Homo sapiens: one gene and its partner. The protein of the gene in region 1 purifies or fractionates together with the protein of each later gene. This does not show direct contact. Each region holds a gene or a part of one and is shown on either strand. Other genes may lie near its edges. The genes, in order: CD8B and GALNT12.

Region 1 (3,823 bases):
CTCAGGTTTTCAGTGAGCATTAAGGGGATTAAAATGTGTAAAGTGTTTGGGCCAGGGTCTGGGACCAGGGAGGTGGGCTGAGGTGTCAGCTGCCCCTGTGACAATCCTCCTTGGCCTCTGGGGCTCAGCGCAGTGACCCACAGCCCACACTGACTGGCGCCCTTGCTTTCCTCTTCCAGGCCGGCGGAGGAGAGCCCGGCTTCGTTTCATGAAACAGTAAGTGTATAACCTGGGTGTGGCCTTGGGTTCCTCAGCCCCTGCTGCAGCTTGCAGCCTCTAACTGCAGCGAGGAGCCAAAGTCAGACCTCATCTTCCAAAGATCATAGACTCGGCCGGGCATAGTAGTGCACACCTGTAGTCACAGCTACTCGGGAGGCTGAAGCAGGAGGATCACTTGAGCCCAGGAGTTCAAGGCTGCAGTGAGCTATGATGGTACCACTGCACTCCAGCCTGGGCAACAGAGTGAGACTCCATCTAAAAAAAAAAATTACAGACTGTATAAATAGATGGGGTGATAGAGTTCAGGAACCTAAGAGATAACCTAAACAAACAAAAACCTGACCAGTAAGTTAAATGTATTTCAAGAACATTCTTAGCTCTCCTGAGGAGAGCAATCAGGCTTTGCATGCACAGAATACCGCAGAGTATCCCAAACTCATCCCATCCGTTATTTCATCCCACCTATTATTTCATCCCCTTGGTACTGTGTGAGATAAGGGGTTATCACCCTCATTTGACAGATCAGTGGAGAGACTACTGGAATCGGATTTGAAGACCAGCCTCTTCTACCAGCCATTGCTTTCCTTCCCTAGGAGCTGCCTTTGTCCCACCTGCTGCCCTCGACCCCATCTGGGTCCCAGGAGTTGACAGAGTCACATAGCACTCTTGGGGCCCACTAAGCTGAGAAAGAGCCTGTACTTACCCTGGGCTGGGCTGGGACCTTTAGTGGTGGCCATTTAGTCACCACCTTTGCAAGTTGCTTTGCCCTGGTAGGGCAGTGACATTAGGTCCTGGGTCTTTCATGAGGCTGTTGGAAGCCATCCTGGGCCAGGGCAGCATTCCTGCATTTGATTTTTGTTCCTCACAACAGAGACTGTTTCACATCTGCCTATCCAGTTAATTACATTTGATCCTTAGAACAACCCCCTCTATACAGAAATGTTTGGGGGAGCAAAAGTACACAACTCTAAATTGAAGAGGGCAACAGGTTCTCCTGCTCAAAAGCTCCAGCTTTAGGTGGAGACAGGGCTGGGTTTGAATCCCGTCTGCCAATCACCATGTGACAGCCAGCAAGTCACTTCACGTCTCCAAGTCTCGGATTTCTCGTCTGTTAAATGAGCTAACAGTGCCAATCTCACAGTCAGTGTGAGGACTCACTGGGGTATTATCCTTAAAGCATGTGGCCCCAGGACCCCGGAGTCAGAGCACAAGCTCAAGTCACTTCAGTAAATTCCACTCTGCAAGTGCAGCAATGGACAAACAAAATGTATTTTTGAATACTCTAAAATTGTAAATAGCCATATAAATTCATATTACTATATGCTCTGCATTGTTGTACACATTATATTTATATCGAGAGTGGCTTAAACATGCCTGCTGGATTTTATGGGCAATTTTCAATGATATTTTAATTGTGTACAATTTTCACCTTGTGTGTTGGATTTAGAAGCTGCCCCCTACCCAAGAGATAATAACTTGAGTGTAGCTGTCTCAGGCCAGACCTCTAGAAAGTTCCATTCAAGGCCGGGTGCAGTGGCTCAAGCCTGTAATCCCAGCACTTTGGGAGGCCCAAGGCAGGTAGATCGCCTGAGGTCAGGAGTTTGAGACCAGCCTGGCCAACATGGTGAAACCCCATCTCTACTAAAAATACAAAAAATTAACTGGACGTGGTGGCAGGCGCCTATGTAATCCCAGCTACTCGAGAGGCTGAGGTAAGAGAATCACTTGAACCCCGGAGGCAGAGGTTGCAATGAGCAGAGATCACACCATTCCGCTGCAGCCTGGGCAACAAGAGTGAAACTCTGTCTCAAAAAAAAAAAGAAAGTTCCTTTCAAAATGTCTCCCATGATGACCTTTCATGGAAAGTAAGTCCCTCTCTGGTACTAACTGTGGTCTGGGTCTGTCCCCACCCCTTCATTTTAACTTGCTCCCCAGTGATCTGATGCCAGTTTTGGGGAGGCTGGATGCAGGACCTCATGCTTTTGCAAGCCCAGGATCAGCTTGAGGCAGGGAAGGGGCTCTGGGTGGTCGTGGGGGGACCCTGAGACCTCCTCACTCTCTTCATTTTGAACAGACGTACTCTCTTCTATTGTCTGGGTTTACACTTACCTGTAACATGTCATTTGAACAAAAGGGTTTGTGGCTTCAAAAAAGCTTGAAAACCACCTCTGGTTTTGCTCTCATGATCCAGGCATGGAGGAAATAGCCTGTGGTGCTCACAGATCTGAGTTGCGATTTGAGGTAGTTGTTCCCCAGCCTCTAACTGTCCTTAGAAAATCATCCCATCTGCAGGCTAATTTCTTCTGGCCCCTTGATATAAATTTGTGATTCTCTTAGATTATCTTAGAGGTACTACAGGAAGTAACCCAATTCAAAGCTACCGTTCTTTGAGCTGCAGTTTTGTTTTGTTTTGTTTTTTAGCCTTAACAATCTTTTTAATGACTAAGATGGGCCCTAGAAACATACTAACAAAAAACTCTCGGCCCCAGGCTACTTGGAGTAGAACTCTGCATTCTCATTTGCCATTTGTCTCTGTTACAGGAAATTCAATATCGTTTGCCTGAAAATAAGTGGTTTCACAACTTGCTGTTGTTTTCAGATTTTACAAATGAGCAGAGAATACGGTTTTGGTGTCCTGCTACAAAAAGACATCGGTCAGTAACGAGCACGATGTGGAAAAATGAGAGAAGGGACACATTCAACCCTGGAGAGTTCAATGGCTGCTGAAGCTGCCTGCTTTTCACTGCTGCAAGGCCTTTCTGTGTGTGATGTGCATGGGAGCAACTTGTTCGTGGGTCATCGGGAATACTAGGGAGAAGGTTTCATTGCCCCCAGGGCACTTCACAGAGTGTGCTGGAGGACTGAGTAAGAAATGCTGCCCATGCCACCGCTTCCGGCTCCTGTGCTTTCCCTGAACTGGGACCTTTAGTGGTGGCCATTTAGCCACCATCTTTGCAGGTTGCTTTGCCCTGGTAGGGCAGTAACATTGGGTCCTGGGTCTTTCATGGGGTGATGCTGGGCTGGCTCCCTCTTGGTCTTCCCAGGCTGGGGCTGACCTTCCTCGCAGAGAGGCCAGGTGCAGGTTGGGAATGAGGCTTGCTGAGAGGGGCTGTCCAGTTCCCAGAAGGCATATCAGTCTCTGAGGGCTTCCTTTGGGGCCGGGAACTTGCGGGTTTGAGGATAGGAGTTCACTTCATCTTCTCAGCTCCCATTTCTACTCTTAAGTTTCTCAGCTCCCATTTCTACTCTCCCATGGCTTAATGCTTCTTTCATTTTCTGTTTGTTTTATACAAATGTCTTAGTTGTACAAATAAAGTCCCAGGTTAAAGATAACAAACGGCTCCTGTGACATAAACGTGCGAAAGCCCATCTACAGCAAAGACATCAGTGCTCCGTGGAACAGAAACCAGAAGGAGAAAATTTGTACATCCTCCTTTTGCACCTGAGATCCTCATTTGCCCGACGTTGTAGGTGTGGAGAGTCCTAGAGAGGCTAGGAAGCGCCCAGGGCACCCAGAGCCAGGCTGCAGGTGCCTCAGGCCCCTCTCCCAGCCCACTCCCAAGCTGAACTAGCACGTGTTCATTTCTACCGCGGGTTGAACCGC
Region 2 (2,779 bases), on another chromosome or scaffold:
AGAATCCAAGAAATGACATTTCAGAGGTTTTTAGGCCTACATAAGAAAATACAAGGCTGGGCACAGTAGCTCACGCCTGTAATCGCAGCACTTTGAGAGGCTGAGGCAGGTGGATCACTTGAGGCCAAAGAGCTCAAGACCAGCCTGGCCAACATGGCAAAACTCCATCTCTACTAAAAATACAAAAAATTAGCTGGGCGTGGTGGCGGGCGCCTGTAGTCCCAGCTACTCAGGAGACTGAGACAGGAGAATCGCTTGAACCCAGGAGGCAGAGGTTGCAGTGAGCTGAGATTGCACCCCTGCACTCCAGCCTTGGTGGAGCAAGGCTCCGTCTCAAAAAAAAAAAAAAAAAAAAAAGATCCAGCCCTAAGAACTAAGCTTTCTATTATGGTCTAGTGAATATAAGTGGGGACATTTCCTTCAGAATTCACATATGTTTCTGTTCAATATATATTTGTTTTATATATATATATTTAGGGCATGACTGATGAAATATAATAAATCAAGCTGTATCCTTTTCACATATGAATCAAAGTATTAAGCGTCCTGAAGAAAGGTAAAAAATCCAATTCAGTATCCTTCTTCCCAGCCTCCTGAACAAACTTCCTTTTCCTTAAATGGTCACTGAAATTTAAGATAAAATTTTTGATATGTCAAACTGATTTTATTGTTTCTAGTGTCCACTACCATTCCTTGAGGGCTTACAATGGCTTCTGGTTGGGAGAAAGATGGGAAGAGGAGGACATTCAAGAAGATCAGAGACGTCTGGGGTGTGCAGAAGTATTTTTCCTTCTTATTTTCCTGTATTCAATAGGTAACACCATGGTGTGTGGCTTTTCTGGGCAGCCTGCAAATGTCATTGCTAGTGACAACATTTTTCTGCAGGAAAACATATTCCAGCTTTTAATCATCTTTAGAATAAACCCATTTATAAGCAGTATATTGGGAGTGAAAGCTGCCCAGGGAGATAAAAAACAATGAATTTTTTTCTTTCAAATGATTTTCTTTGGATTTATTCCCTCACATGCTTTTTAGTGAGTCAAAGGATATGATCGATTTACAAGTCCTGATGCAAGCTGACTGCAAGTGTGGTGGGGCCAGCACCCTCAGGTCTGAGGTAACCCTCAGTTTCAAATCAACTGTGACTATCCAGGGAGACTACTCTATCAGAGGTGTTTTCTTGGTTATAATACCACAAGCAACAACTAATCTCTATCGAGCTTTATAGTTTCCAAAGAATATTTCTGGCTATGCATCTAATCCTCAGTAAAGTAAGTCTGCTATTATTGCACCTTTTTTTTTTTTTTTTTTTGAGACGGAGTCTCGCTCTGTCTCCCAGGCTACAGTGCAGTGGCATGATTTCGGCTGACTGCAACCTCCGCCTTCCGGTTCAAGTGATTCTCCTGCTTCAGCCTCCCAAGTAGATGGGACTACAGGGGCATGCCACCACACCTGGCTATTTTTTTTTTTAAGTAGAGATGGGGTTTTGCCATATTGGCCAGGCTGGTCTCGAACTCCTGGCTTCGGATGATCCACCTGCCTTGGCCTCCCAAAGTGCTGGGATTACAGGCGTCAGCCACTGTGCCTGGCCTATTGTACCTATTTTAAAGCTGGGAAAAACAAGGCTTAGAGAGGTGGGGTGGCTTATATCTGGATCTAACACTTTGGCTAACATCCTTACACTTGGGCTATTTGGCTTACTCATTTAAAGCCCTTTCATCTCTGAATGCATTTGTAAGAGCTGTTTCCATGTCGGTGCCTGCAGCTCATGGGGGTGCAAGGGAAATGGAAAAGACTAAAAGGGACTGGACAATGAGGAAGGAAGGCAGTGCTAATGACACCGTGTGCCAGGGGACTCCAATCTCCTGCCATCACCGCCCCCCAGGCTCACTGGGACTGAGGTTCCAGGTCTTCCAGAGCTCCTGTCCATGCATGGCCACATCCCTGATCCTCACCAGGACTATGCCAGAGAGAACGTCTGACTCTCACACTCTCCCTTATAGCCCAGGGACTGTCAGCAGGAAGGAAGGAGAGAGTTCACCTACCTCCTGCAAGATGAACTTCTGATTCTCTGGGGCAGTTTCTTCGCAGAGATGCATGATAAGGGTATCCATTCCTGCTTCCACAGCAATGCAGCCCTCAGGCTGGTGGGTGTTATAGCGTATTTCTTTCTGGGACGTGTACTCGAAAAACTAAAAATGGGGCAGCCAACATGTAACACAACATTTTCCACTGATGTGGGAAGAGGAAAGATCGCTGGACAAGAACCTGGGATCACGAGAGCATGGGTGGGGTCATGCACCTGCGTCACCACCAACACGAGCCTGTGTGATGGGTTCCTCCGCATCCCACAGCCCTCAGTGAACCGCTACTGCAGTGCTTCATGAGCGTGGAGGAAATGGCCCTTCCCATGCCTGCCCAGCTTGCTAGACAGGGAGACAGGGCTGGTGCATGTCACCTCCTGCCTGCAGTGCTGAATGCTGTGTTGGTGTGGGATGGGAGGAAGGGAAATGGACCCATCGCAGCACTAGCTCTTGGGGGCTCTCTGTGACCTTGACTAGCTACTTCCTCTCCTTTTCCTCAGTCTCTCCTCCCAAACCCCCAATATGACAGTTCCTAGAAGATGTAAAGTGCTGTGCACAAGCAGACAATGTGACCGCTAACGGGAAGACTTGGTTCTTCCCGGACAATGGTTTTCCTACCTGAGTGTACTAGGAACTACCTACAGTGACTGTTAAAAATGCTGATTGCTGGCCCCATCCCAGAGACGGAATAAGGA

What was found.
Region 2: the proteins of CD8B (region 1) and GALNT12 purify together in Homo sapiens (affinity purification with mass spectrometry; one large-scale study listed by BioGRID and IntAct). This does not show direct contact.

The regions. Positions count from the first base shown.
Region 1 is NC_000002.12:86,841,315-86,845,137, reverse strand, and holds part of CD8B (T-cell surface glycoprotein CD8 beta chain isoform 5 precursor), read left to right. Parts: intron 1-179; coding exon 180-216; intron 217-2,760; coding exon of another isoform or gene 2,761-2,818; coding exon 2,819-2,831; coding exon of another isoform or gene 2,832-2,881; 3' UTR 2,882-3,823. UniProt on the Homo sapiens protein: Integral membrane glycoprotein that plays an essential role in the immune response and serves multiple functions in responses against both external and internal offenses. In T-cells, functions primarily as a coreceptor for MHC class I molecule:peptide complex.
Region 2 is NC_000009.12:98,845,390-98,848,168, reverse strand, and holds part of GALNT12 (polypeptide N-acetylgalactosaminyltransferase 12), read right to left. Parts: intron 2,193-2,779; coding exon 2,046-2,192; intron 1-2,045. UniProt on the Homo sapiens protein: Catalyzes the initial reaction in O-linked oligosaccharide biosynthesis, the transfer of an N-acetyl-D-galactosamine residue to a serine or threonine residue on the protein receptor.